Homo sapiens: one gene and its partners. The protein of the gene in region 1 purifies or fractionates together with the protein of each later gene. This does not show direct contact. Each region holds a gene or a part of one and is shown in the gene's direction. Other genes may lie near its edges. The genes, in order: IBA57, MCEE, HMGCL and CZIB.

Region 1 (7,442 bases):
CGCCTCGGCCTCCCAAAGTGCTGGGATTACAGGCGTGAGCCACGGCGCCCGGCCGACAGCTAATTTCTTTTAGTACTGGTTAGTATTCCATTGGATGGACCACAGTTTATTTGTCCACTCATCTACTGAGGGACATATTGGTTGCTTCCAAGTTTTGGCAATTATGGATAAAGCTGCTGTAAACATCCATGTGCAGATTTTCATATGGGTCTGAGTTTTTTTGTTTTTATTTTTTAGACACAGGGTCTCGCTCCATTGCCCAGGCTGGAGTGCAGTGGCACAGTTGTAGCTCACTGTACCTTCAAACTCCTGGGCTCAAGTGATCCTCCCACCTCAGCCTCCCAAGTAGCCAGGACTACAGGTAGTTGAGGTCTCACTATGTTGCTCGGGCTGGTCTTGAACTCCTGGGCTCAGGCGATTCTCCTGCCTCAGCTTCACAAAGTGTTGGGATTGCGGGCATGAGCCACCATGCCTGGCCTCCTTAGGGTCCCTTTCTATCAGTTGGTTTTGATCTCTCTTCATGTAGGAGGCAGAGAGAGGCTGTAGGGTCATGTTGCAGGTAGGATTGTGGTCCAGTGGCCTTGCTGCGAGCTGGCCGGGGCAAGGATGTGGACTCAGTGCAGGGCTCAGCAGGCCCAAGAGTGTCAGGGCTGTGGCCTTGTGTCTGGCCAGCACTGAGGAGCAGGAGAGACTTGTCAGGCCTCTGGTGGCCTGGGGAGGAGGGAGGAGAGAGAAGGGAAGGAGTCAGGCCGGGTCCCAGAGCAGTGTTTTCCTGAACATGACTGGAAACCCTTGGATCTGATGGCCAGGGGACCCTTTCTTTCAGTTGGCTGGGCCAGAGCCACCCCTGACCTCCCTCCTCTTCCTGCACCCTTGCTCCCACCGGGGCTTCTGGGCTCAGCAAACAAAAGCACAGGACACCCAGGTCCGTCTCAGACGAGCAACGGATGATCTGTAGGTGCATCCTATGCGGTATTTGGGATATACTAAAAAAAGTAATTTGTTGTCGATGTGAAATTCTGATTTAACCAGGTACCCTATATTTTCTTTGGCAACCCTGTCCCCTGCGCCCCTCAGCGGTATCTGGAAATATTTTTGGTTGTCATGATGGGGTGGGGTACAGGCCAGGGGTGCTGCTTAGCATCTGGACAGCCCCCACTATGGAGAATGATGAGGCTGAGAAAGCTCCCCAGGCCGGGGCTCTCCTGTGAGGCAAGTCTCCTGGCAGTCTTCAGGTGTGGCAGGGGTTGGGGTGGGCCCGGGGGTCATGTCCCAGCTCAGCTGGTCCTGAGAAGCTGCCTGGTAGACAGTCACCGGCACAGAGAGCTGGAAAGTGCCCTCGACCCCAGAACCTGGGTCCTGTGAGGACATCCACCCTGTGTGAGGCCAGGGAGTGCTCAGCAGATGGGGGCAGCAGGGGGTGTCAGCATGGGTGGGGGTTCCTGCCAAGGCAGGCAGCTGAGCTGGCCCCACCTCAGAGTGCAGGGGCCCTCAGCTTGATCTTTTCTGGGCTCCACTCTTGACTGATGGACCCATGGGGCACCCTGGCCCCACCCTGCCTGCCTTGCCCCAGCTCCTGCCCTTGCCCTGTAGGGCTCTGCGGCCTCCCCTGTGCCTGTGTGCCTGGCTCACTAGACCCTGGACCTGTGGTCCCTCAGCTCCACTCTAGTCCCCTTACTCTGTCCCTCTACTGCCTGGCGTCGCTCAGCTCCTCCCTGCCTGTCCGGCGCCCAGCATCCTGTGCCCATGACCTCACATCTGTCCCTCTGCCCGGGTCCCCCACTCACCTGTGTTTTGGTCCATCTTTGTCTGCTGACCCCACTATAGATTTTAAAAATACAAATATGCATGCACGTGGTTAAAAACTCGCTGATGTCAGATGGCTGGGATGAAAGGACTGCCTGCTGCCTTTCCTCTTGTAGTGCTCGGACACCTCTGCAGGCGAAGCTCCTTGTTTTTTTTTTTTGTTGTTGTTGTTGTTGTTTTTTCACTTCTTATTTTGAAATAATTATAGATTCACAGGAAGTTGCAAAAAAAAAAACAAAACAAAACCCGTGGGAGAGATCGCACGGACCCCTCCCCAGTTCCCCTGATTGCACACACAGGGCATATCTGGGGTCTCTGGATTTGTGTGTCTTACTTTGTGCGTCTGTGCACGCATGTGTATAACTGCAGTTTTATCACGTGTGAATATCTGTGGCCATTCTCAGGCCCACGCGGCTTCCTGCTCCTGCCCCTGAATGGGCACCCCCAACACCCCAAAACCTGTTCTCAGCTGTAAAATCGTGTCATTTCAGGAGTGTCATAGATGGATGCATCGGCCTGTCACTTTTTAGCCTTACCCTTTTCCCTCACCATAGTGCCCTCAGATCCACCCACTTCTGTCCATCTCCAGCTCCCTGTTCTTGCTGAGAAGTCCCACATGGTGTAGTGGCACCTTGATTCTCCCTTTCTGGCTGTTACCAGTATAGCTGGCTGCTGTGAGCTTTCGCTGCAGGTTTTGTGTGAGCTGCAGTCTTCGTTTCTCAGTGATCCATGCCCGGAAGTGAGAGGGCCAGGTCGTGGAGTAGTTGCTTGTTTGGTGTTGTGAGGACCTGCACCCTGTCTTCCAGAGGGCCACCCGTTTTGCCTCCCCACCAGCAGCATGCCAGTGACCTGGTTTCTCCTCATGCTGGCCAGTGTTCAGGTTCACCACTGCATCTGTCTGGGCCACATCGCCTGTGTTTCCCTGGTGGCGTGGTGACCTTTCCGCGGCACACCTGCGGCTGCCCCTCTGTGCTGTCCTTGCTGTTCCTCCCGTCATCTTAGCCCACGTGTGTAAATGACATATGTTCCCCTCCCTTGTGGGTGTTGTTTTTGATGTCCTGTGACCGCTGTCCTGGAGTGTGGGCCAGATTCACTGGCTGTCACAGCTGGCTATGCCCACCCTCCCTGCGGCAGGGTCCTCAGTGAGACCTGTGCCTACTGGTTCTGGGTGATGAGCGTGAACGTTCTCCGTGGCTGCTGGCACGTGGGCATGACCACAGGGTAGAGTGAGACTGCAGAGATGAGGGCAGCAGGCCCCTGCTTGGCACCTGAAGCCCTGGGCAACTGGCAAGGACTGAGCCCTCTCCTGGCTGGAAGGGGCTGGGCCACCTGCTCTTGGGCTTGTCTCTGGAAGGCCCTCTGGGGGTCTTACTACCTCCCTGTCTCAGCTCCCACCAGCCTGTGAAGCCCTGTGCAGTCCATACCTGCAATCAACCCCAGCCATGGAGGTGGCTGTACCCCAGGTGTCTCCACTTAGTGCCCCCCCCCCCGACATGCCCCACGCTGCCCAGCCTCTCCTCTTCCCACCATCCGTCTGGTCAGGGGTCATTCTTGTGGTGCCTGCCCAAATCCTCTGAGGAGGGCTGCCTGGAGTGCAGGTCAGAATGGCTCTGGGGCCCCGATTGGGTTCTGAGACTTGGCTTGGGGAGGCAGGTGGTGGGCATGGGCAGAGTGGGCCTCAGGCATGCTGTACCTCCCTGACAACCTCCTGGGCTCCTTGCTCCTCCCTCCTGCCCACCTTAGGACCCTTGGGCTCCTCGATGGCTTCCCTGGGCTGGAACAGGCAGGTCTGGTTCTCAGTGGCTGTGCACACCGTTCCCCTGCGGGGCCCTGCCCATCCCTGCTCCCACATCCAGCGGACTGTTGTCATTTCTGCCCTAGGCTCTGGGACTACTCCGGATGATGCCCTCGGGCAGGCTATTGCAGTTCTGCCAGTCCCTGGGCAAACAGGGTCTGTCTGCGCTGGCCCCTGTGAGCTCGTCTTTGCCTGCTTAGACGAGAGCTCCGGAGGCTCAGCTGCGCACGGCTGTGGGCAGGGCTTTCCATGCGCTGGTCCAGGTGTACCCTGCCTGGCCTGCTGTGCGTTGTCTGCACGCACCCTCGCATTGCTGTGGGCGCGGCACTCTGCGCTGGTCTCCAAGGTGCCCGCATCTAGCTGTGATGCGCGCCTTGGGAGGTGCTGCCTGGTGTGGCTGTGGGCGTGGCTCGCTGTGGGCGTGGCTCGCTGTGGGCGTGGCTCGCTGTGGGCGTGGCTCGCTGTGGGCGTGGCTCGCTGTGGGCGTGGCTCGCTGTGGGCGTGGCTCGCTGTGGGCGTGGCTCGCTGTGGGCGTGGCTCGCTGTGGGCGTGGCTCGCTGTGGGCGTGGCTCGCTGTGGGCGTGGCTCGCTGTGGGCGTGGCTCGCTGTGGGCGTGGCTCGCTGTGGGCGTGGCTCGCTGTGGGCGTGGCTCGCTGTGGGCGTGGCTCGCTGTGGGCGTGGCTCGCTGTGGGCGTGGCTCGCTGTGGGCGTGGCTCGCTGTGGGCGTGGCTCGCTGTGGGCGTGGCTCGCTGTGGGCGTGGCTCGCTGTGGGCGTGGCTCGCTGTGGGCGTGGCTCCCTGCGTGTGGTGACCTGGGCGCTTGCCTTAAAGGCGCAGCCCCTTGTGGCTGAGGGCAGAGCTCTTTGCGTTGGTCCACGGTGTGCTCCTCTGCCCGGGTAAGGCGCGCTCCCTCATGCAGCCCTTTCTGGCCCACTCAGTTGGTGAGCTGCCATGCGCCCCTGCCTCTCTCCCTGCAGGCTCCAGGAACACTCGGAGGTGTCTGGCTTCCTTCTGGAGTGTGACAGCTCGGTGCAGGGCGCGCTGCAGAAGCACCTCGCGCTATACAGGATCCGGCGGAAGGTCACGGTGGAGCCGCACCCGGAGCTGCGAGTGTGGGCGGTGTTGCCCAGTTCCCCTGAGGCCTGCGGGGCTGCATCGCTGCAGGAGAGGGCAGGGGCTGCCGCCATCCTCATCCGCGACCCGCGAACAGCACGCATGGGGTGGCGGCTCCTCACCCAGGATGAAGGCCCAGCCCTGGTGCCCGGGGGCCGGCTCGGGGACTTGTGGGATTATCACCAGCACCGATACCTGCAAGGTATGGGTGGGGTGGGCACGCTGGGCTGGATTGCACGGGTGGAGCTGGACGATGTTCAATTCTCGCTGGTTTCCCCCCTCCAATCCCTGCAGGCGTTCCTGAGGGGGTCCGAGACTTGCCTCCTGGGGTGGCCCTGCCCCTGGAGTCCAACCTGGCCTTCATGAACGGCGTGAGCTTCACCAAAGGCTGCTACATTGGCCAGGAGCTGACGGCCCGCACCCACCACATGGGCGTCATCCGCAAGCGCCTCTTCCCTGTCCGGTTCTTGGACCCCCTTCCCACCAGTGGCATCACCCCTGGTGCCACGGTGCTGACTGCCTCAGGACAGACTGTGGGCAAGTTCAGGGCTGGCCAGGGCAACGTGGGGCTGGCCCTGCTGTGGTCAGAGAAGATCAAGGGTCCTCTGCACATCAGAGCCTCTGAGGGTGCCCAGGTGGCCTTAGCCGCATCTGTGCCAGACTGGTGGCCTACAGTCTCCAAGTAGTCCGAAGCCTTGGCTGGCGCAGGCTGATGGGGAGGCTGGGGCCTGGGGCCTTTGGCCTCTGTCCAGGGTCTTCCCGTCCCATCTGTCTGCTGCGCCTACTGGGTGGGAGCCCTGGTTTCCATCTGGGAAAGTCCCCCTTGTAGGTGCCCTGCCTGGCCCCACCCATGCTCAGGGGCCCCAGGCACGTGGGTTGTTTTCTCCCTGGACTTCCTGTGGCCCCAGAGGAGCCCACCGTGTGAGTGCTGGGCTCCAGATGGCGCCGGGTCCCAATCGTGGCTCCACACAGGGTTGTCTGGGAGGACGGGACGGTGTCTCTGGCCAGCACTGGCAGCTTCCGGGCCTTGTACCCCACTCTGCCTGGCATGAGCCTCATGGGGGGTTGGTCCCTGTGCCTGGAAGCGGGGTGGTGTCCAGGGTCTGCAGGCTGGGGCTCGGGCTTTGGGAGTTGTTTCACTGTGCTTGCTTCCAGCATGTCTCAGGGTGGGGCTATGCGTGGTCTAGAGGGGTCTGGGGCATTGGATCAGGTGGCATGTGGGTGTCTACACATCGAGAAGCACACAGGGATGAGCCACTAGGTATCCCATGCTGGAGGCTTGTGGAAGGCTGTGCCCATCTCCCATGTTTCCCCACCTCTGTTCCTCCTCAGAGCCCTCCAGGAGCGTGGGGTGGGGGCCAGCGCAGGGCTCAGGAGCCAGCAGGGCAGAGTTCTGCCTGTGTGTGCTGGGTTTTGGCATAGCCTGTGTTTGCAGTGAGAGTGACTTGCTGTCAGTCACGGGGCACAGCCTCCTGTTCACCCACTGGCTTCCCCCTTCCCACTGAAGTGTGAGCTCTATGTTTCAGGGCATCTATTAAAGAGTGAGCCACAGGCAGCCCCTTGGGAGCTCTGGTTTCATTTGGGGGAGAGGGAGGTGGGGGCTTAGTTTTTGTGATCTGGCTGACTGGACCCCGGGAACAGCGCTCCTTTGAGAACGCCCAGACCTACCAGATGAAGCACTTGGCATGGCTGCAGGCCAGCAGGGGAGGCCTCAGAGGCCCAGGCTGGGCACGTGGGTGCCGAGTCTGCAAAGGACAGCCCCATGGCTGTGAGCTGTCGGCTGCAGGGCGCAGGGCCTGGGGGGCAGGCGTTTGGGCCACCAAGCTGGACGTTAGGGTGGCCACAGAGGGCCAAGCAGGCAGGGAGCCTGTGCCGCCATCCTGGGGGGCCACAGGTGCTCTCTAGAAATCTGCAGCCATGGCGGTTTTGGGGTCAGGGGTCTAAAGGCAGCTCTGAGCTGCAGTGTAGTTTGTGATCACCCAGGAGGAGGGTGTAGAGCGGATGGACGGGAGGAAGCGGCTGCAGCTGGAGGGAAGAGAGGGGCCGTCCAGCCTCACCCGCTGCAGTCAGCTCTCCTATGGGCAAGGAAACAGCTAGGTGGCCCTGACCCCTGCGGTCCTGAGAGCCGGTGGCCTTCAGCCCCTCTTGGACAGGTCATGGTCTGGAAGCGCCCAGCGCAGGATGGATTCCAGACCAGCATCCCTGCAACCTTTTCAGCCCCACTGGCTGCTGCTTTAAACTGGCATGGAGACATTTGATCAGCTTCCCAGCCAGTTTTCTCTCCAGCTCAGCCAGGAGTGGGTGCCTGTGGCCTGTGTCACCAAGAGCTGGTGTCTCCTGCATGAGGGGCATGCACCCCTGGAATGAGGGTCTGTGCCTCGAGCTCAAAGTGTCCCGGCTCTGTCATCTGCCTGAAGTTGCCTGGCTTTTCCAGTGGGGCCTCCTTGAGTGCTGCAGCATCTGGGAGCATCCTAGCCTGTCCCGTGGGTGTGGCTGGGTGAGGGCTAGGAGGTGAGCCAGGAAGGAAGCACTCCACTCCAGAGTGAGGTGCCGCCTGAGCCATCCTGTGCCCCCTCAGTGTCTTCAGGTCTCTGCAGGTGTCAGGATCTCAAAATACTTGGTTCAGATCAAACACATTTCGTGTTCTTCTGTGTCCTTTTTTTTTTTTTTTTTTTTTTTTGAGATGGAGTCTTGCTCTGTTGGCCAGGCTGGAGCTCAGTGGCACAATC
Region 2 (7,985 bases), on another chromosome or scaffold:
ATCTCAGCCTCCTGAGTAGCTAAGACTACAGGTGTGTGCCACCACACCTGACTGATTGATTGATTATAGAGATGGGGCTTCACTATGTTTCCCAGGCTGGTGTCAAACTCCTGGGTTCAAGCCATCCTCCCACCTTGGCCCCACCTAAGTGCTGGGATTATAGGCATGAACCACTGTGCCCAGCATGAAACACTGTGCCCAGGCTTGAAGTAATTCATGATTGAGGGATATTGAAGAAGGAGTATACTAAAACATTGGGTTGCAATGTCAAAATTATAGATACTTGTACTTGGATAGAATGTTCCATAAATGAAAATATTCATAATCACATGTAGCATAGGAGTTATCAAAAGGGCACTATGGAAAAAGTCATGATTATATCATGAAATTGTTCAAACATATGAGAAGTAGAAAAAAAATCATGTCAGTACTTTCATCACCCAGGTTCAACAGTTTTCAAGCTCTTGCTACACGTCATCTTTTTTTCTTTTTTCCTTAAATTATTTTAAATGAACAACATGTCATTTTACCCTTACTCAGTTTGGGTCTCTAAGAAATACAAAAATAACCACGGTGACATCATCTTTATTTTCTGGCACTTCAGTCAAAATTAAAGGGAAATCTTTTGGCACCATCTATACACAGCTCATAAATTAAATTTCCCAGATTGATTTACAAATGTCTTTTTATAGTTGATTTGCTCTAATCAGGATAAAAACAAGATCCACTCATTATAAACAGTGGTTAATCTCATCAGATGCTTTAAAAAAATTATGAACATCTTATAATAGTTTGATACATTTATCACAATTAGTGAACCAATACCAATTCATTGTTATTAGCTAAAGTCTGTACTTTATTCTGATTCCTTTAGTTCTTACCCAGTGTCCCTTTTCTATTCCAGGATCCCATCTAGGATTTCACATCACATTTTTTTTTTTTAATTTTATTTTAAGTTCCAGGATACAAGTGTAGGACATGCAGGTTTGCTACATAGGTAAACGTATGCCATGGTGGTTTGCTGCACCTGACAATGCATTACCTAGATATTAAGCCTTGTATGCATTAGCTATTTATCCTGATGCTCTCCCTTCCCCCACTCCTCCACCCCTAGCACATCACATTTAGTCATCGTATCTGCTGAGGCTCCTCTTGCATGTGGCAGTTTCTCAAACTTTCCTTGTTTTTTTGTTTTGTTTTGTTTTCTAACCTTTTTCTAGGATCTCCTTTCCTTGTTTCTGATGACCTTAACACTTTTGAAGATTACTGTTCAGTTATTTTGTAAACTGTCCCTCAGTTGAGATTTGTGTGATATTTTTCTTATTAGACTCATGTTATTGATTTTGGGAAGACCATAGAGGTAAAGTGTCATTTTCATCACATCATATCAAGGATTCATACTATCAACATGACTTACTACTGTTGATATTAACCTTGATCTCCCAGGTGAGGAGGTGTTGTCAGGTTTCTCCACTGGAAAGCTGTTCTTTTTTTCTCCTCCATACTATCCTCTTTTGGAAGGAAGTCATTATGCAAGGCCCACACTTAAGGAATAGAGAGTTATATCAGTATGGACTTGTGGATATTTATTTTATGACTTGCATTACAATCTAATACTACTTTTTTTCCCCTCAGATTGTTCCAGCTTTGGCCATTAGGAGCTCTTTCAGTTGATTCTTATGTCCCTTTGACATACCCCGATCATTTTTGGTTTTGTGTTTTGTGTTTGTTTTTTAAGCACTTCCTTTCTTTTTCTGGCACTGTAAGATACTCCAAATTCATCTTCTATATGAGATGCTCCAAATTCATCTTCTTTACTCTTTGCCCTAGCCATATAATTAGACATTTCATCTAGGAGCCCTGGTTCCTACTACTGGAGAATGGTATTAGAAGCCAAGATCTAGGTTCTAAGTGTGCTTATTGCTACTGGGTGTGTCATTGGTTCTTGCCCTACTGAGCCAGGACAACAGGGAGATATATATGTGTGTATACTGTATATATACACATATCTATACACATTTCTGTATATAACTATATTATAGAATTCATGAAATGTCATAAACTCCTCAGAGCATACTGACGTCTCCAGCTCTAATCCATTACCACATAGACCACACTAGCCTTTATCTTCTCATTCCAACAGTGAGAAACTTAGCTCCCACTATCAGCCATCCATCTACTTCGTTGTTCAATTTCGGTATGATGTGTGGTAGTTATATTTGTCTTCTAGGGCTGCTATAATAAATGATCACAAACTTAGTGGCTTAAAACAGAAATTATTCTTTTCACAGTTCTAGAAACTAGAATTCCAAAATCAAGAGGTAAAAAATATGGAAGAAAAAGAAAACAGAATAGAGCATAAGACAGATGTAGGACATGGTCAAAAGTTCTAGCAGAATATAGTTGGAGTCCCAGAAAAGGAAGAGAGAGAAAATAGAACAGAAGCAGTAATTGAAAAAATAGTTGACAAGGACACTACCAATCTGATGTAAAACATCACTCTATGGTTTCAAGAAAGTCAGCAACCCCAAGTAGGGCAAACAGAAAACTACACCAGGCCGGGCAACAGTGGCTCACGCCTGTAATCCCAGCATTGTGGGAGGCCAAGTCGGGCAGATCACTTGAGTTCAGGAGTTCGAGACCAGCCTGGCCAACATGGTGAAACCCAGTCTCTACTAAAAATACAAAAATTAGCCAGGCATGGTGGCACATGCCTATAATCCTAGCTACTCAGGAGGCTGAGGCAGGAGAATCGCTTGAACCCAGGAGGCAGAGGCTGCAGTAAGCCAAGATCATGCCATTGCACTCCAGCCTAGGTGACAGAGTGAGACTCTGTCTCAAAAAAAAAAAAAAAAAAAAGGCAGGTGCAGTGGCTCACGCCTGTAATCCCAGCACTTTGGGAGTCAGAGGCGGGCACATCACAAGGTCAAGAGATCGAGACCATCCTGGCCAACATGGTGAAACCCCTTCTCTACTAAAAATATAAAAATTAGCTGGGCATGGTGGCGTGTGCCTGTAGTCCCAGCTACTCTGGAGGCTGAGGCAGGAGAATTGCTTGAACCCTGGAGGCAGGGGTTGCAGTGAGCTGAGATCGCACTACTACACTCCAGCCTGGGTGACAGAGTGAGACTCTGTCTCAAAAGAAAGAAAACCACACCTAAGCACACCATAGTCAAACTGAAAATCAAAGATGACAAGAAAATCTTAAAAGCAATCAAAGTAAAAAAGACATATTATAGAATGACATGTAATGACACTTTTTAGTTGCTGACAGAAAAAACCTGCCAATTTAGAAATCTGATTCCGGCCAAGTTGGTGTAAAAGAGATCAGTTTATCCTCCCTGAAACAAACAAGCAACCTAGACAAAATACATGACATAATGGATTTCTGGCATTGGACATCAGGCAGCACAGGAATTGATTTCTGAGAGAGGGTAAACAAACAAGATGAGCCCTACAATTACCCAGTTTACTGGCTGTAGAGAGTTTCCAGACTGCAGTGCAGGAAGGGGGAATCCACGTGGAACTTAGTGGTCTCCCTGAGTTGCGGAGATAGGAGTTGGAAGTCTGAGGAGGCCATGGTGCTAGAGTTCACAGCTCTCTCCTGGAAAGGAGAGCTGCACAGAGAGTGAACTCTAAAGATCTGTAGTACCTTTCATGTCTTCATCGGAGCTTCGAGTATTGCACGCATGTTAGGAAGCTAGAATAGAACCCCTTGAAAGGATTAGAGGGAATAATCCACACACAGAGGTGGGGATAGTTTTTTCTTACTAGTCATAGTAATTTCCGTAACATTGGGAAGAGTACTCAGAAGGGCTTTGGCTTGGTAGTGAGGAAAATTAGTCCTAGACTAAAAGCTGCTCCAATCCCACCTAACGCAGCAGAAGAAAAGCTTAATAATATTGATATGAATTTAAAAATAAGATAAAATTGACAATGTCTGACATCAGTGAGGACCAATTTTCCTCACTAAGTGGGTCGAGCCGTTCCTGCCACGAGCTTCTAGTGCATGTTCTATTCTGAAAAAGATGAGAATTAACCAGCTACAGTGCAAGATGTCATGAAATGAGCTGTGTTCAGAATCTAGGCACGTGTGACTTTGACATATCTATGAGGTTTAAAAAAGAAATATCAGGAATACAAGTAGAATATGTGCCATATGAAGAAATCATAGCTTATTTATGTAACATTTAGTATCCTCATTAGCTGTTTGACTGGTTTTAGAATTCAGCATATAATCCTTGGCTCTTTGGAAATAAAATTGTATAAATACTAATATTTATTAGATCTGAATGGTAGGTACATGGGTGTTAAACTAGTCTCTGTGCTTTTGTGTGTTTTTTTTAATTAAACTAGTGATTTTAATTAAACTAGTGATTTATGACTGCCTAGGAATGTGGCCATTCATATCATACCTTTTCATCCATTTCTTAGGTTCCCAGTCTAAGTGGGTGACTTTCCAAGATAGAGGCAGATCATTTCTCCGTCAAGTATAGAGAGACACATCTGCTCCTCCTAGAGTGTCCATAAGTATGAAGAAAATAGAAATAACTTAGAAGAGGCTGCAAAAACATTAAAGTTTGAAATTTTTTTGGGTGGGGAATAACATTTTGATGGCAATTTAATAGTGATTTTCATGTGTGTCTTGATAATGTCAAAGGTAATAACCAGGTGTTTTGGCAGGGCAAGTTTTGGGGATCAGGGAAACACTCATATTTGCTAAGTACCTATTATGCCATAAACTGTACTGAAAGCTTTTTATCTGTTACCTCATTTTAATCTGTAGTCAATTTATGTGGTAGACCTCATTTGCCTGTTATAGATGAGGACCCAGGGTTCTCAGGAAAAAGCAATGTCTTCAATCTCACTAATAGTACTGCCAGAATAAACTATTATAAAGTATATCATACATGATTTAGATTATAAGAAGAAACATTTACTAATGGTGAAAATTCTGAGCATTGTGGTTGCTTACCTAGAAAAATTTAGTAACTTCTCTTACTTCTCTGAAAATTTTAAGCTTATTTTTTATGATGATTTAAGAATGGTCCTGCCCACAGGCAGAGGAGATAGACTGCATGAGCTCTCAAAGTTTTTTCTAAGTCTTATGATACTATAAGTTGGTATTTTTATGATCTCAAATGTGTTCAATTTATTTCCCTTTCTTAAGGTGGATAATATTAATGCAGCTGTGATGGATTTGAAAAAAAAGAAGATCCGCAGTCTAAGTGAAGAGGTCAAAATAGGAGCACATGGAAAACCAGTGATTTTTCTCCATCCTAAAGACTGTGGTGGAGTCCTTGTGGAACTGGAGCAAGCTTGATTTATATTTGCAAGCAACTAAATTAATTGACCTGAAAAAGCCTATCAAATACTATCAAAATGTACTATGACATTGAGTCCTTCACTGCTTCCATCATGTAAAAGTTCACAGTTAAAGACTGAATTACAGAAAGATTAAAATATATACATATATAAATACATAAATATGTATATTATTTAGATTAACAAACATATTTGTTAATTTGAATTTGAAGAAAATCTTGATTACTAATTACTTAGGGAACATTATTAAAATCATATAGAAATAAATTATTCCTCTTCTACAATGGGGTAATTGAATGTAATGTGTTAGCTGTGTACAAGGGTATGTGTGTGATGGATGGATACACAAAGGAGTTATGAAAGTATGACAATTTTGTGGCTAATATTTGGGGCAAAAGTTTCTAAGAATGTTTTGGAATACTTTTTTAGAGCAAGCTGTGTAAGATTAGGGAATTTTAATCTCAGAAGTTTTGCTCTTCAAAAACAACTCGTGGTCACAGTTTCCTCAGGGTCCAGGTGTTTTGGGTGCTAGGGCTAGATGTATAGGAAGTTTTGTGGAAAACCTGGTGCGTCATCTAGTAGGCATGTAGATGTCTGAATTATTTTTTTAAATCAGTAGTAATTTGTAGAGTTAGGTATCACGTAGATGCTAGAACACCACAACAGGTCCTAGGGGAATATACAAAATGAATAGAAATCCACTGCCAAGATGCTTATGGTTCATTTGGGGAGAGTACTGCTTGAAATAAATGTAAACACTTACAAAACAACATCTGAATGAATTAAAAAGGAAAGGAAAGAGAGAATAGATCTCAGAGGATAGTCAGACTCAAATATGTTAGAAACAAGTTTCAGATGAATTTCAAGGATTACAGATGGATGCATTGAATGCATAGTGGATGGAAAAGTGGCTAACAAGTTCATGGATGAGTGGATGTTGAGTAAATGAGTAGATATGTAGACATTGAACTTGTTATGGAAGACAAGTATAATATCCAATTATACTTTTCATTTAAAAGTTAAAGTAAAAATTACAACATTGATGTGGTTCTCAGTGTATGTAGAGGAAGTATTTTAGACAATTACATCACAGAGTGGGGGCAGTAAAAGGGACTTAAATGGTGGTTAAATATCCACATTCCACTTCAAGTGGTAGATGTTGATAGTAGTAGACTGCAGTAAACTTCATGTGTGTATTGCAGTCTGTAACCACTGAAAAACTATATGAAGAGATACACTCAAAAATGTAGATAAATCAAAATGGACTACTAAAGAATGCCCAAATAACCCACTTGAAGACAGGTAAGAGGAAACAGGAAAAAAGCAAAACAATAAAATGACTGACCTATAACCTCACATATCAGTAATTACATTCAATGTAAATGGTCTAAACACACCAAGATTGTGAGAGTGAATTTAAAAACCTGACCCAACCAAATGCTAACTACAAGAAACTCAAAATATCAGTAAATTAACAATGATTTATCAGTAAATCTCAATATCAATAAACTAAGAGTAAAAGGATAGAAAAGATACACCTTGCAAACAGTAATTCAGAGAAAGCTGGAGTGGATGACTTACTATCAGACAAGGTAGACTTTAGGACAAAAGAAAATTGCCAGGGACAAAGAAATACATTACATAATGATGAAGAGGTCAGATCACAAAAAGACAACAGGTGTGCATTAACCAAATAACACAGCTGCAAAGTATATGATCTAAGAATTGATAGAACTAAAAGGAAAAAATGGACAAGTTTACAGTTTACAGTTGGGGACTTCAACACCCCTTGTTTAGTAATGGATAAACCCACTAGACAAAAAGCAAGTGCGTGGGAGAACTGAACAGTACTATCAGCCAATACGTAATACACATTTTTTGGGCATTTATGGGACATTCACCAAGATAGACCATATCTTGGGTTATGAAACAAACTCTAACACATTTAAAGTAAGTGAAACATATAAAATATGTGACCATAAATGAATCAAACTAGAAATCAATAACAACAGAAAAACCTCCCCAAACTTGTAAGTTGTCAAAGAGGAAGTCTCAAGAGAAGTAAAATACATCCTGAGCTGCATGAACTTGGAAATACAGCAATCATTTTTTATAAAAGGTATTTATTGCTTTAATCTATGAATCAATAAAATTTTGCTTTCATAAGAAGAATGAAATGTGATCACAAGAAATGCAAAACAGTATGTTTAGTAGATGCTGGTGTTAGCACCCATCCACTATTTCTTCTTTAATAGAGTTCTGACTTGGTTAGGTTCCCATCCTTATCCTCTCCCACACAGGTAAAATTCTCAGGTAAAGCCCCAGGATTAGACTGAAATTACATCACCCTTGCCAGTGATGGGTTCAATGATGTGGTTCATAACTACATATGGTTATGTAATTCATATGTGGACTAAAAGCATGAAGAAAGGTTTTCTAGAGACATCTGGAAATGTTCTTTCCCACATCTAGGTGAGAACTATGAGAAGTCAGCCTCTCTCCCAACAGAGTTGAACAAGGAAAACAGGTAATTTGGTTGCTACCAGCAACTATCCAACAACTATGGGACAAACAAAAACCCAAAAACCTTTAGGATAATGGTGATCCTGGTTGGCAGAGTAGAGAGGCAGAAAAAAAAAAACTTTTCAATGACACTTTAA
Region 3 (7,935 bases), about 200 Mb from region 1:
GCTGAGGCTACAGTGAGCTATGATTGCACTATTACACTCCAGCCTGGGCAAGAGAATGAGTGAGACCCCATCTAAAAAAAAAAAAAAAAGGCTGGGTGTGGTGGCTCACGCCTGTAATTCCAGCACTTTGGGAGGCCGAGGAGAGCGGATGACTTGAGGTCAGGAGTTTGAGACCAGCCTGGCCAACATGGTGAAACCCCGTCTGTACTAAAAATACAAAAATTAGCTGGGCGTAGTGGCAGGTGCCTGTAATCCCAGCTACTCGGGAACCTGAGGCAGGAGAATCGCTTGAACCCGGGAGGCGGAGGTTGCAGTGAGTCGAGATTGCGCCTCTGCACTCCAGCCTGGGTGACAGAGTGAGACTCTGTCTCAAAAATAAATAAATAAGTAAACAAACAATAAAATAAATAACAATAAAAATAAATTAAAAATTAAAAAATTCAAAGCAAAAGCAAACAAACTAAAAAACAGTATTAAGTCTTCCAATTCATGAACATGGGATGTCCTACCACTATGTCTTCTTTAATTTTTTTCACCAATGGTTTATAATTTTCAGTGTACAAGTCTTGAAAGACATATTTTAAATAATACCATGCCAGTATGTTTGGGCCGAGTGCAGCCCTCTAACACAGGTTTGAGAATTCTGTGAGTAATGCTCCCAGTGTCATGATAGAGAAAATTTCCAGTGCTGCTGAAGCCTAACAGAATAATTATCATGTCTTGTTTTTTCCCTAGATAAAATCTGAGCTCCTTAAAGTCAAGGAAAGTGCCTTCACTGCCTTCCCTGAGAATACCAGACACACAATTAACATCCAACCAGTAGCCCCTGTGACTATTTAAAAATGCAAATTCAATCAGATTTCCCTACTCTAAATCATTCAAAATCACTGCTATTAGGACAGCTGGTATTAGTGTGTTCACCAAAGCCCTGTGACAGTTCCTGCCAAACTCTCCAATCTTAGTAGGAAGTCCCCTTCCTACTCCCTCCCCGCTCTCCAATCATTCCAGCCTTCTTTTCATCTTGCTAAAAAGGTGTTTTCAAACAATTCCAAGTGCAGCCCACAGTAAGAAATTTATTTTACATTGCAACCTTGTTGATATATATAATGAACAAAAGTTTTGCAAAGCAGTACTTGGCTTTACTACTTTTATACATTGTATTCTAATATTTTTCTTATTTATTATTATTATTTATTTAGTTTTTAGACAGAGACTCGTTCTGTCACTCAGGCTGAAGTGCAGTGGCGTGATCTCGGCTCACTGCAACCTCCGCCTCCCAGGTTCAAGTGATTCTCCTGTCTCAGCCTCCTGAGTAGCTGGGATTACAGGCACGCACCACCATGCCCAGCTAATTTTTGTATTTTTAGTAGAGACGGGGTTTCACCATGTTGGTCAGGCTGGTCTCGAACTCCTGACCTCAAGTGATCCGCCCACCTCGGCCTCCCAAAGTGTTGGGATTACAGGCATGAGCCACCACACCTGGCTATTTTTCTTATTTATTGAATAGACTTGGGGTCTCACTTTATTGGCCAGAGTGGTCTTCAAGTTCTGACCTCAAGTGATCCTCCCACCTCGACCTCCCAAAGTGCTGGAATTACTGGTGTAAGCCACTGCACCCAGCCTTTTCTCTTTTATTATTATTTTTATTTTTTTAGATCACTCTTTTATTATTTTATAGAGCAATATTTTATATTTGGGGCCTGGCACAGTGGCTCACGCCTGTAATCCCAGCACTTTGGGAGGCCGAGGAGGGTGGATTGCTTCAGCCCAGGCCAACATGGTGAAATCCTCCATCTCTACTAAAAATACAAACATTATCTGGGCACGGTGATGGGCACTTGTAATCCCAGCTACTCCGGAGGCTGAGGCAGGAGAATCGCTTGAACCCCGGGGTCAGAGGTTGCAGTGAGCCGAGATCACGCCACCGCACTCCAGCCTGGGCAACACAGTGAGACTTCGTCTTAATAAATAAATATAGATGGATAGATAGATAGATAGATAGATAGATAGATAGATAGATGATAGATAGATAAAATTCTAGTTCTTTGTTTTAAATAAAGTTTGTACCCACTAAATTGATACTGTGACCAATTAGTGGGGTACAACATACAGTTTGAAAACAGTGCTCTGGCCGGGGGCGGTGGCTCTCGCCTGTAATCCCAGCATTTTGGGAGGCCAAGGCGGGCGGATCACCTGAGGTCAGGAATTTGAGACCAGCCTGGCCAACACGGTGAAACCTCGTTTCTACTAAAAACACTAAAATTAGCCAGGCGTGGTGGTGCACACCTGTAATCCCAGCTACTCGGGAGACTGAGGCACGAGACTCTCTTGAACTCGGGAGGCGGAGGTTGCAGTGAGCCGAAATCGCGCCACTGCACTCCAACCTGGGTGACAGAGTGAGACTCCATCTCAAACAAACAAAACAAACCAACAAAACAAAAGAGAGAAAAACAGTGTTCTCAGCATTTTCTTTGCCTCAGGGCCATTGCGAATGCTACACCGTCTGGAAAGTTTTTCTTGTATCCTCTTCACCTGGATAGATTTTTTTTTTTTTCAGCCCTTCAGAAAGTACACCTAGATAAATCTTAATCATTTTTTTAAGGTATGAAATCTAAGGATGCCCCCTCTCTGGAGCTGCCTGCCTGTGTTTGAATCCTGAAGATCGTGATGCGTGAGTTAATCCGTGCTAAGAACTCGGAACAGTGAGTAGCAAATCGTTGCTTCTTATAGTGCAAGTTAGAAATGACACAACTGTTTGTGTAACTATTAATATGTGTCTCCTCACACCTCCCACACTCTAAACACAAGAAGCCACAGAATTTGGTTAATTTCTTTTCATGTTTTTGTTTGTTTGGTTTTGGGTTTTTTGTTTTGGACAGGCTCTCACTGTGTCGCCCAGGCTGGAGTGCAGTGGCACGATCTCCGCTCGCTGCAACCTCGCCTCCCGGGTTCAAACAATTCTCCTGCCTCAGCTTCCCAAGTAGCTGGGATTACAGGCGCCCACCACCACGCCCGGCTTTTTTTTTTTTTTTTTTTTTTTTTTTTTTTTTTTGGATTTTTTGGAGAGACGGGGGTTTCGCCATGTTAGCCAGGCTGGTCTCGAATTCCTGACCTCAGGTGATCTACCCGCCTCGGTCTCCCAAAGTGCTAGGATTACATGGTGTCCAGGCTGATTCTGTTCATCTTTATATTCCTAGCGTCTCACTTGGCCTGGCATGGAAGAGGCGCTCGGAATCAAAACGGAGAGAGGCTGGGGGTGGAGCCAGCTTCGGAAGTCACGGCGGAGGGGCGGGGGCGGGGCCGCGCCCACCAGACGAGCCATCGGTCACGCGGGGCCCAGCTGGACTGCCGCGGGGGATTCTGGGCCAAGATGGCAGCAATGAGGAAGGCGCTTCCGCGGCGACTGGTGGGCTTGGCGTCCCTCCGGGCTGTAAGTGCCCCGAGCCGCCGAGGCGGCGGCCCTGCAGGCACTCTGACTGTCAGGGTTGGGGGCTTGGCCCGTGGTGACTGCTCTCTTAGAGGCGAGGCCGGACAGCTCTCAGGCCAGAGTCGGGAGGGCGTTGGAGTCCTGGACCCTCCCTTTTCCCCTCAAATCCTTTGAAGGGGATGGGAAAACTGAGGTCCGGAGAGGTGGAGTGACTTGTCTGGGTCATGGAGACCTGGGACGCCATCCTAGGTGCCCTGATTCCCCGCCCAGGGCCCTTTCCGATGACCCTGGCCCCTTTCTCCCTCTAATTGAACTTCAGACCTCTCCAACTCTTCATTAGTGAAAATCAAGAACACGCTTCCATTTCCTTCGTCTCCATTTCCAACTGTTGTTGCTTTTAGAGATGCTTGGGGAACTATCCCAGCCTACCGAGCGGGACTTGCGTTGATTGGAGCCAAGCTGTGATTCCCTTGGAATTGCACTTTGATCCTGTTCGATCCTGATGTTTTCCCCTCTCCCATTCTCAGCGCAGAAAAAGTGTGGGAGACGTAGCTGTATGGAGCAGAAAAAATAAAAGCTGAAGCTAGGGTGTCCCAATAGTTCTGCCACTTTCTAGACTTAATGACATAGTTATTTACTTTCTCTAAACCTCAGCTCTTTCGTCTGTAAAACGGACAACATTCCCTTGGGGTTGTTTTGGAAATTAGAGAAAATGTAAGTAACACATCTGGCAGTGTTCTGGCTCCTAATAAGTGATCAGTCGGTGGTGGTATTTTTACCTTAGGGAGTTGAGAAGGAGTTATAACTGTATAGAGGGAAAAATACACTCCTGGCACTGGGTCCCTCTCAGAAAGCCACGTTAATATCTTTACTTGGCCATTCACCTGCACCACCTGCTCATGTGTAAAATGAAGATGGCAATTCCAACTTGGAAAGTTAAACGCAATAGTAGATATTAATAAGCTTTTAAGAAATATTTGGTGTAATGAGATGGCCCTCCATGGGGTTCCAAGCATAGGAACCAGTATTAGTATTAGGCCTAGATATGGGTTCAAGTCCAAGCTCTGTCACTTTCTAATTGTGATTTTTGGGTAACCTTTCTGAGGCTTAGTTTCTTCACCTACGGAGTTGGGATAATAATAGTCCCTGGCCTGTAGTTTAACACTGGGTTTAGTCAGTATTCGCTGTTGGTGTTGATGCAGGTACACCATACCTCAGGACACTGTGGCACAGTACTTGTGTGGTTAGGGGGACCCTCTCTGAGCAGAGCTTTACAGAGGAGGAACGGGATGTTTAACCAGGAGAAGACTGTGGACCGAACGAACGGTGGTAAAGAGGCAACAGTGGCCCAGAGGTTAGGAGCTTGTGCTCTAGAGCCACACTGCCAGGTTTAGATATTGCCTCAGTGAGTAACTCCCCATGTCACCTCGGGAAGATTACTTAATCTCTTTGGGTCTCAGATTTCTTTTCTTTTCTTTCTTTTTTTTTTTCCTGAGACGGTGTCTTGCTCTGTCATCTGTCACCCAGACTGGAGTGCAGTGGCTCAATCTCAGCTCACTGCAACCTCTGCCTCCCAGGTTCAAGCGATTCTTCTGCCTCAGCCTCCCAAGTGGGGCCTTAGATTTCTTACAGTAAAATGGGGATGATGATAGTTCCTACCTGATAAGATTGTTGAGAGGACAGTATGGGTTAATATGTAAATGGCTCACCAGGCGTGGTGGCTCATGCCTATAATCCTAGCACTTTGGGAGGCTGAGGTGGGTGGATCACTTGAGGTCGGGAGTTCGGGACCAGCCTGGCCAACCTGGTGAAATCCTGTCTCTACTAAAATACAAAAAATTAGCCAGGTGTGGTGGTGCGCACCTGTAGTCCCAGCTACTCGGGAGGCTGAGGCAGGAGAATCACTTGAACCTGGGAGGTGAAGGTTGCAGTGAGCCAAGATCGCGCCACTGCTCTCCAGCCTGGAGACAGAATGAGACTGTATCTCAAATAAATAAATAAATAAATAAATATGTAAATGGCTCTTGTATGTGCCTGGCAAATATTAAGTGTTTAAAAACTGAATTATTATGTGAAGAGCTGTTACGGGGAAGGAAGGAAGTGGAATTGAGTTTATAATGTTCTAATAAAAGCAGCTTGGAAGCAGGTTTTAGAAGCTTTTTTTTTTTTTTTTTTTTTTGAGATGAAGAAGTCTCGCTCTTGTACCCCAGGCTGGAGTACAATGGCACGATCTCAGCTCACTGCAACCTCCTCCTCCTGGGTTCAAGCAATTCTCCTGCCTCAGCCTCCCGAGTAGCTGGGATTGCAGGCACCTGCTGCCATGCCTAGCTAATTTATGTGTTTTTAGTAGAGATAGGGCTTCACCATGTTGGCTAGGCTGGTCTCGAACTTCTGACCTCAGGTGATCTGCCCACCTCGGCCTCCCAAAGTGCTGGGATTACAGGCGTGAGCCACCACGCTTGGCCTGAAGCAGGTTTTAGATTATTTCAGCAACACTCAACTGTTATTTATCGAGCCCCTATTATGTCCCAGGGCCTTAGAAATACAGCATTGAATAAAACAAAGTCCCTGTCTCATGAAACTTATGTTCCAGTGAGATAGTTTTAGGGTGATATACTAGCAGAGGCTGAACATCCCTGTTGGAGGGAGATTCAAGTTGCAGGGACCTTCCAACTTAGCCTGTTGACGTCATGAAATTCAATGGCTCATCGCCTTAGTCTCTAAGAAAGCTTGTTGGCTAAAACAAGGCCAGTCAGGTGAGTTGTACATGTTCCAGCTGCTTCCTAGCAGGGAATTCCTGGGGGACTTCAGGGGGTTGAGATCCTTAGCGGATCACACAGTGTGCCTTCCGCTTTGCCTCGTTGTAGTATATTTATCCAGATTAAATCTGTAAAACAAAGTTGATTTGAAAAGTTACAGTATCAAGACAGGTAGAGGAAAGAGGAAAAAAAAAGTATTGTGTTACTTGATAGGGAAGACTAAGATTTTGAGCTGACTTTATATAGAGGAGACTCAGGGCATTTTGTAAAAACTGTCTTCAGCTACTGGGGGTGTCACCTCCCCTTAGACCCATGCTTGTCATCACCCAGCCTATGACTGTAACAGAAGAGAGCCCTCCTGCATCTCGCCCATACCCCGAAAAGTCCAGGACTGACTACTCCTCCCCACACTCAGTAATTGCTCTCTTCTGGGACAGCTGTGTCCTTCATGGTTTATGTGTTATTTTAATAACTTTAAAGAGTGGCTACTTTGTACCAAACACGGTGCCAAACACTAGGGATGAAGTGGAGTTGAGACAGACAAGGTCCCTCAAAGAGCTTATGTTCTACTGGAAGAGACATTGAGTAGGCATTCTTTATCGTGCTTTGAAGGAAATAATTATAGCTCTGCAATAGCGAAAATAATGGGGGTGGGAGGAATGGCAGCTTTGCAAAGGGTGGTCAGAGGAAGCCTCTCTGCAACTGAAAGATGAGAGAGAGATGTAAGAACAGCCAGTTTTTTTAAAAAAAGCCAGATGAGGAACCCTGGGGCAGAGGGAAGAGAAGGCAGGGAGCTTAGCAACCTGTTGGGTGGAGGTTGGGAGTGGACAGTAGGGGCGAGTGATGATTCCAGGAGGTCAGAGGAGGCAACTCATACAGTCTTTTCTTTTCTTAATTGGAAAGCATCAAGTGACATATAGAGTCATTTAATTTTTTTTTTTGAGACAGGGTCTCGCTCTGTTGCCCAGGCTGGAGTGTAGTGGCACAGTCATAGCTCACTGCAGGCTCAACCTTCTGGGCTCAAGCGATTCTCCCACCTCAGCCTCTTGAGTAGCTGGGACTACATGTCCATTCCACCACACCTGGCTAATTTTTCTATTTTTAGTAGAGACGGGGTTTCTTCATCATGTTGGCCAGGCTGATCTCGAACCTCTGGCCTCAAGTGATCTGCCTGCCTTGGCCTCCCAAAGTGCTGGGATTACAGGCATGAGCCACCGTGCCTGGCCTTTTTTTATTTTTTTTGGAAATGGAGTCTTCCTCTGTCGCCCAAGGTGGAGTACAGTGGCACGATCTTGGCTCATTGCAACTTCCACCTCCCTGGTTCAAGCAATTCTCCTGCCTCAGCCTCTTGAGTAGCTGGAGTTACAGGCGTGCACCACCACACCCGGCTATTTTTTGTGTATTTTTAGTAGAGATGGGGTTTCACCATGTTGGTCAGGCTGGTCTCAAACTCCCGACCTCAAGTGATCGCCCGCTTCGGCCTCCCAAAGTACTGGGATTACAGGCATGAGCCACTGCCCCCCGCAATACCTGGCCTTTTTAAACTACTTCTAACATACATACAGCAGCATACAGAGTCCTATAGGCCATGGTGAATAGGTGAAATGGCTCAATGAAGTTCTGGCTTATGCAGTAGGGTACATGCGATGCCTTTGACAGAGATGGAAAGGATGGAGTCAGATGGGCTTTAGGAGAAATTAGAGTTCTGTTTCGGGACTGCTATATGAAGAGATGCGAATAGAGCTGTCA
Region 4 (6,700 bases), about 170 Mb from region 1:
TAGTAGGTCTGGGTTCTAGAGTCATGCCTGCATCAGAGTGACCTGCCATAGGACATTCACTCATGAACTTAGTTCTTCTTTGACTCAGTCATTTATCCACTGTACACTGAGTGCTTGGTATATTGCCTCTTGCAGTGCCTTCTTATGAGGGCTGGGCTGTGAGAGCTCAGGGGACCTCTGACACAACCTAGCTGTTCAGTTTGCATCACTGAGAGCACTTGCCTTGTCTTCATTTTAGGGGACTAGCAAGCTTTCTCTGAAACCATGGGTGGGGTAGTCGTTTGGTGCATCCCATCCTTTATATCATCAGTGTTAACAAGTTAGCCCAAAGGTGAGGGAGGGTGTGCTTTGGATCTGTTTGTTTAAAGAAAGCCAGTTATATGTATTCACCTATTCCTTATTTGGTATTTATTTAAAGTATCTTGAGTTGTGCCAAATTCTTGGCTTTGTCCTGAAGTTAAAGAGAAATTAAATGAGGACTCGCCTTCACGTACATAATAATCTAGTGGAAAATACAAAAAACAAGAATCGAACTAGGGCCCTAACAGAGAAGTGCCTTACCAGTGCCAGAGATGTGGTCAGTGTGCAGGAAATTACTTTACAGTGAATGACAGGATGAGACTGAATGTAGGGCATGGCACTTGTGGTCCCTAAGCCCATAGGTCAGGTAGGCATGAATTTCCTGGCCACCTGCCCCCCAAGAGGTGCCCCCTCCACATACATAACCATTTCAAAGGCTATAAGACAGCCCTCTGCCCTTACTGCATGGCAGATGGTCAGCAAAAGGCTATGGTTAAGTGTACTGGGTCTGTTTGGATGATCTAGAGACTTTGGAGCTTAACATTCTTGTTCATATTTTTGGTGTTGATAATTTTATTTACTATTTATTGAGCACTGTGCTGGGCACTTTATATGCATTTCAAAATCTGACAGTAAAATTGTAGAGGTTTCCTCGGCTCTATTTGACAGTTTAGGAATCTTGGGCCCAGAGGGGAAGATAGGCAGAGCTTACCTTACATCCAGGCAGGTTGACCCCAGCATCCACGCTCTTCTGCAGCCTCCATGTCTGCTGTCTACAGAAAGCTTCATAGGGAGCAGGTGCCCAAGGCAGGCTTCCTCTAAGAAGGGGATGAGTTCTTCCTGGGTCTCATACTAGGCCTCCAGGGGCAGTAAGTGCCCATTTGGCAGGAAGGAGAGGGGCCATGGGGTCATCCTGAGAGCTCATTTGGGCCTGCCTCCTCAACACACTTCCTTTCTAGGCTGAAGACAATGAGAACTTCAAGACAATAGTGGAGTTTGAGTGCCGGGGCCTTGAACCAGTTGATTTCCAGCCGCAGGTGTGTGTGTATCTTTCTGGGGAATCTTTGTCTTTGGGGAGGGGATGTATGAAGTGACAGCCAGAACTGTGCTACCTACAGATACCATGGACTAGACATTCTCCTTTCTAGCGGTAGTAATAATTGTCCCTTAAGTGGCTGCTGTATGCTTGGGCACCCATGCCATCATTTTTACATGTTACCACATTTAATTCTTATGGTAACCCTATGAATTTATTCATCCTGTTCTTCAGATGAGGAAGGAACTGAAGAGATTTTGCAACTTGCTCAGGGTCACACAGTAAGCAGTGGAGCTATAGTTTCAACCCAGATCTATCTGACTTGAGCTGGTGCTCATCCCCCTTTATTTGTGCATGTTTCACCTCACAACAAATCTGTGAGGTAGGCAGAAGAGCAAATACTTCATCCCCGTTTTATCAATAACTAAGGTCCAACCTGGGAAATGACATGCCCAGGAGCCTTCAGCAAACCAGGGCTAGTGGAAGGGATTACGCTGCCCCTGCTGCCTTCTGGTCCAAGGCTGTAATTCAGAGAAACCACCACTCTAGTTCTGAGGCAGCTGCCGGGTCCTGGAAGCTCAGCAGTTATTCCAAGACAGGTACTCATACTGCATCTCTGTCCTCCATCCCAGAAGTGTGAGAAGAGCCAGCAGCCTGGCCGGCCCTTACTTATAGCCCAATGCCTTCTTTTGCCAAGACTAACTGGTACCTTCTTGTGCCCTGCAGGCTGGGTTTGCTGCTGAAGGTGTGGAGTCAGGGACAGCCTTCAGTGACATTAATCTGCAGGAGAAGGTATGAGACTTGGGGGCTTTGGGAGGTACTGTAGGGCACCTGGTGGGAATTATTTTTTTGGTGGACAAGGCTCATCAATGGAAAGCCAACTCTGTATTTTTGTGCTTTTTGTTAGTGATTTTGCTGTTGAAATGGCCACAGGTATAGTGCTAAAGTGCTTTCTAATGTTCCTACGTATGAGAAAGCTATGATGCCCCTTACAGAGAGAATACGTGTTAGATAAGCTTTATTCAGGCATGAGCTATAGTGCTGCTGGCTGTGAGTTCATGAATCAACAATATATATTAAATAAGTTATCTTTAAACAGAAACACATAAAGCTAGATTATTGATTGGTTGATGAAAATGTGACCAGAGGCTCATAGGAACCTAACCCTGTATTTCCCCGGGGAGTATTCATTCAGTATTCCCTAATTCAGTGTTTGTGGTGGCTTTACTGCACCTAACTACCATGAAGAACAAGAAATAGTCTGTATTACTGGACATATTACTACCCTGCAGATAGAAAAGCCTTGTGCTCAAGCCTTGAAGGAAGGACAAAAACTTCATTTCATTTGCTCAGCACCTAATAACAGCAGCTAGCATCTACTGAGCTCTTACATGTGCCAGGCACTCACTATGCTGAGTGCTTTTATTTTATTTTATGTATTTTTTGAGACAATCTCACTCTGTCGCCCAGGCTGGAGTGCAGTGGTGCAATGTCAGCTCACTGCAACCTCTGCCTCCTGGGCTCAAGTGATCCTCCTACCTCAGCCTCCCAAGTAGCTGGGATTACAGGCGCCTGCCACCATTCCTGGCTATTTTTTGTATTTTTAGTAGAGACCGGGTTTCACCTTGTTGGCCAGGATGGTCTCGGACCCCTGACCTGAAATGATCCACCTGCCTTGGCCTCCCAAAGTGCTGGGATTACAGGCATGAGCCACCACGCCCGGCTGCTGAGTGCTTTTAAATGTGTTACCTCATTTGATTCTTTCAACATTCAATATGAACTCCATTGTCCTTTTTTTGTTTTTGTTTTTTTTAAATAGAAGACAGGACTCGGAGAAGGGACTCAGAGAAGTTAAGTGATTTGCCCACAGTCATACAACTGAAAGAGCTAGAATTCAGGCCTGAGCTATCTGGCTCTGTTCAGGGTCATACATGTTCATGATTATTTGAGTCAGAGCCTGAGCTGGGCCTTTTAAGTCCCAGTTTTCTGCTCTCCACATGGCTGCATTCTGCGTTGTGAGGCTAACAATGCCATTTTGTTTCCCAGGACTGGACTGACTATGATGAAAAGGCCCAGGAGTCTGTGGGAATCTATGAGGTCACCCACCAGTTTGTGAAGTGCTGATCCCTCTTCCTTCCCAGTTGCCCTTAAGAACTGAGAAAGGACAAAGTACTCTAAGCAGCAGAGCCCACAGAGGCTCGTTCCTTTGACCCTTGTCTCCTGGTGGCTATACGAAACCTTCACAATCTGCATGCTGGACTTTATTACAGCTTCCCAAGCCCCATCAATAAAGCCCCTGTTCACGCTGCACTGGTGCATGAAGGTGAAGTAAGGAGGCAGCTACTCCCTCCACAAATAAGAATTCGTGCAGCAGCAGTTCACTCCTTAGGAAAATGAAGAGTATTTTTAAGGAGATGGTATCTCCCCAGTCAAGGGCAAGTTTACAGAGATGAAACCGCGATCCCACCATCACTCAATGAGCCAGAAGCCAATGGTGACGTACTGTTACCTGAACTTACTGAACTTGCTGTTGGAAAGATCTTTGTGAGGATTAGGAATTAGGTTAAAAGAAATTAAGAACCATCTTCAAGCAAAAATTAAACTTTATTTCTGCTTAAACAATAAATACACCTGAGTTAGTTTTCCAAACCTTTCCTCCTGATTAAATGCCCTTAAAACTTAAATCTCTTGTTATCTTCAGTTGTGATCTAGTCCCAAGTGGAAATTACGTTTAGCTTTAAAACCATGAATTTAAAGCTCAAGCCTGTAGCTGGCTGCCTAGGCAGCTTATGATTAGTTTCACAGAATAGCACCCACTGGCTACACAGGCCCCAGTTTTTTTTTCTTTTTTGTTTTTTTGAGACAGTCTCGCTCTGTCGCCCAGGCCGGAGTGCAGTGGTGTGATCTCAGCTCACTGCAACCTCCACCTCCTGGGTTCAAGCAATTCTGCTTCAACCTCCCAAGTAGCTGGGATTATAGGCACATGCCACCACACCCAGCTAATTTTTGTATTTTTAGTAGAGACAAGGTTTCACCATGTTGGCCAGGTTGGTCTCAAACTCCTGACCTCAAGTGATCCACCCGCCTCAGCCTCTCAAAATGCTGGGATTACAGGCATGAGCCACCATGCCCGGCCTCCCAGTTTTCATGATGAGGAAGTGATGGTAGCTTTTCATCTGCCCAGAAGTTAACTTTTGATGGATTTGCCTTCTAAGGCATCAAACATGTCTTCTAAGGCCTTCTCCACACATTGGAGAAACTCCCGGGCATTGCGGCCTGGGTAGGAAGAGACATTGCAGCCTATCCAGTTGTCATGAACAGCATACCCAACACCAAAGCCATCAGAGACCACAGGGGCAAAGCCCCCAAGGTTCACTGCTGGGCTGCTCAGTGTGCTCGTGGACAGGACATTGTGGTTTATCTGCCCGTATGCAGGGTCCAGGTAGAGCTCAGGCAAGATGATCCCTTTGGCTGCTGCCAGATGCCGCAGAGCAAACAAGTGTCGGTCAAAGCCCTGGCCTGTGAGAAACAAAATGGAAAACCAGAGTCTCAGGATGGAAAAGGACCTCAGGAAAACCTCCCAACTCACCACATGGTAGGAATACCCCTCACAGCATCCTTGAGAGTGGGGGAAGGCTCTACCTCTATGCACACCACCAACTGACTAACCTTCAGAGCAGCTCAAGCTAGATTATTTTAAATTATTTAGGAAATATATTATGTCATGTTACATTTAAAAATAGCTGTCAACAGCTGAGCTAAAAATGAGCCTAAAAGGAAAGCATAATTTTAAAGATGTGAAATCAGTTTAGTCAAAGAGTCAAGACAGTACAGGAAGACAGCTATGGACTCAAAAACTACAATAAAACTAAAAGTCTGATTCAAGTGTAAAAGAGAAGATTGAGTCAGTGGAACAAAATGGAAAGTCTGTTTGACCAGGGTTCGAATCTCAGTCTTACTACTAACTTGCTGTGTAACGGGGCCAGTGGCTTGGTTTTCTCCCTATAAAATGGAGGAAGAGAAGATTAGAATGTCTTGGAGGTCCCTTTCACTTCCAGCACTTCATAGCAACATGAAAGGACAACTATGACCCTCCAGGTCCTTTCCAGGTCTTGAATTTTATCAAAAAAAGGTAATGACGGATGACAATTGAGAAGAGCTTCTGAGATAACCTGTTTACAGAGAGCAGACACATTACAACTGAGGTGAAGCTAGTGGGGCCGTAAGTTTAGAAATCCTAAATTTTCAAAAGTGAGTCTGATAACCAATCAGTAATAGAAAAAGGTTGGGTGCAGTGGTGCATGCCTATAATCCTAGTGCTTTGGGAGGCCAAGGCAGGAGGATTGCTTGAGCCCAGGAGTTTGAGACCACCTTGGGCAATACAGTGGGACCTCATCTCTACAAAAAATTTTAAAAATTAGGCCCGGCATGGTGGCTTACGCCTATAATCCCAGCACTTTGGGAGGGTGAGGCGGGTAGATCATGAGGTCAGGAGTTTGAGACCAACCTGGCCAACATAGTGAAACCCCGTCTCTATTGAAAATATAAAAATTAGCTGGGCATGGTGGCATAAGCCTGTAGTCCCAACTACTCAGGAGGCTGAGGCAGGAGAATCGCTTGAACCCAGGAGGCAGAGGTTGCAGTGAGCTGAGATTGTGCCACTGCACTCCAGCCTGGGCAACAGAGCAAGAGTCCATCTCAAAAAAAAAAAAAAATTAAAATATCAGCTGGGCATGGTGGTGCATGCCTATAGTCCCAGCTATTTGGGAGGCTGAGGCAGGAGGATTGTTTGAGCCAAGGAAGTTGAGGTTGCAGTGAGCCATGATTGCACCACTGTACTCCAGCCTGGGTGACAGAATGAGACCGTGTCTCCAAAAAAAAAAAGGCCAGGTGCGGTGGCTCACGCCTGTATTCCTAGAACTTTGGGAGGCTGAGAGGGATGGATCACCTGAGGTCAGGAGTTCAAGACCAGCCTGGCCAAAATGGCAAAACCCCTTCTTTACTAAAAATGCAAAAACTAGCCAGGTGTAGTGGCGGGTGCCTATTATCCCAGCTACTTGGGAGGCAGAGGCAGGAGAATCACTTGAACCTGGGGGTGGAGGTTGCAGTGAGCCGAGATCACGCCATTGCACTCCAGCCTGGACGGAGGGAAACTCTTGTCTCCAAAAAAAAAAAAAAAAAAGAAAGAAAAAAGAATTAATGCGTCACAGCTGAAAGTGACCTTAAATGAGGACAAAGACACATGCATTTCCCCACCCCTGCTTAGGAGGCAAGAACATTCTGATCCCTAGTGGCTAGTGTGGCTGTTCAGACTGCTAGGGTAGAAAAGAAAAATTTGGGGAGTTGGCGATGGATTAAACCTAG

What was found.
Region 2: the proteins of IBA57 (region 1) and MCEE purify together in Homo sapiens (co-immunoprecipitation; one large-scale study listed by IntAct). This does not show direct contact.
Region 3: the proteins of IBA57 (region 1) and HMGCL purify together in Homo sapiens (co-immunoprecipitation; one large-scale study listed by IntAct). This does not show direct contact.
Region 4: the proteins of IBA57 (region 1) and CZIB fractionate together in Homo sapiens (co-fractionation; one large-scale study listed by BioGRID). This does not show direct contact.

The regions. Positions count from the first base shown.
Region 1 is NC_000001.11:228,170,115-228,177,556, forward strand, and holds part of IBA57 (iron-sulfur cluster assembly factor IBA57, mitochondrial isoform 1 precursor), read left to right. Parts: intron 1-4,455; exon of another isoform or gene 4,456-4,496; intron 4,497-4,577; coding exon 4,578-4,915; intron 4,916-5,007; coding exon 5,008-5,399; 3' UTR 5,400-7,442. UniProt on the Homo sapiens protein: Mitochondrial protein involved in the maturation of mitochondrial [4Fe-4S]-proteins in the late stage of the iron-sulfur cluster assembly pathway. Operates in cooperation with ISCA2 in the maturation of [4Fe-4S] proteins.
Region 2 is NC_000002.12:71,107,308-71,115,292, reverse strand, and holds the end of MCEE (methylmalonyl-CoA epimerase, mitochondrial precursor), read left to right. Parts: intron 1-4,434; coding exon of another isoform or gene 4,435-4,455; exon of another isoform or gene 4,456-4,530; intron 4,531-5,170; coding exon 5,171-5,323; 3' UTR 5,324-5,606; downstream 5,607-7,985. UniProt on the Homo sapiens protein: Methylmalonyl-CoA epimerase involved in propionyl-CoA metabolism.
Region 3 is NC_000001.11:23,820,851-23,828,785, reverse strand, and holds the start of HMGCL (hydroxymethylglutaryl-CoA lyase, mitochondrial isoform 1 precursor), read left to right. Parts: upstream 1-3,356; 5' UTR 3,357-3,370; coding exon 3,371-3,430; intron 3,431-7,935. UniProt on the Homo sapiens protein: Mitochondrial 3-hydroxy-3-methylglutaryl-CoA lyase that catalyzes a cation-dependent cleavage of (S)-3-hydroxy-3-methylglutaryl-CoA into acetyl-CoA and acetoacetate, a key step in ketogenesis. Terminal step in leucine catabolism.
Region 4 is NC_000001.11:53,211,419-53,218,118, reverse strand, and holds the end of CZIB (CXXC motif containing zinc binding protein), read left to right. Parts: intron 1-1,259; coding exon 1,260-1,337; intron 1,338-2,062; coding exon 2,063-2,128; intron 2,129-3,382; coding exon 3,383-3,460; 3' UTR 3,461-4,020; downstream 4,021-6,700. Other genes in the region: CPT2 (carnitine O-palmitoyltransferase 2, mitochondrial isoform 1 precursor), read right to left, coding at 4,524-4,855.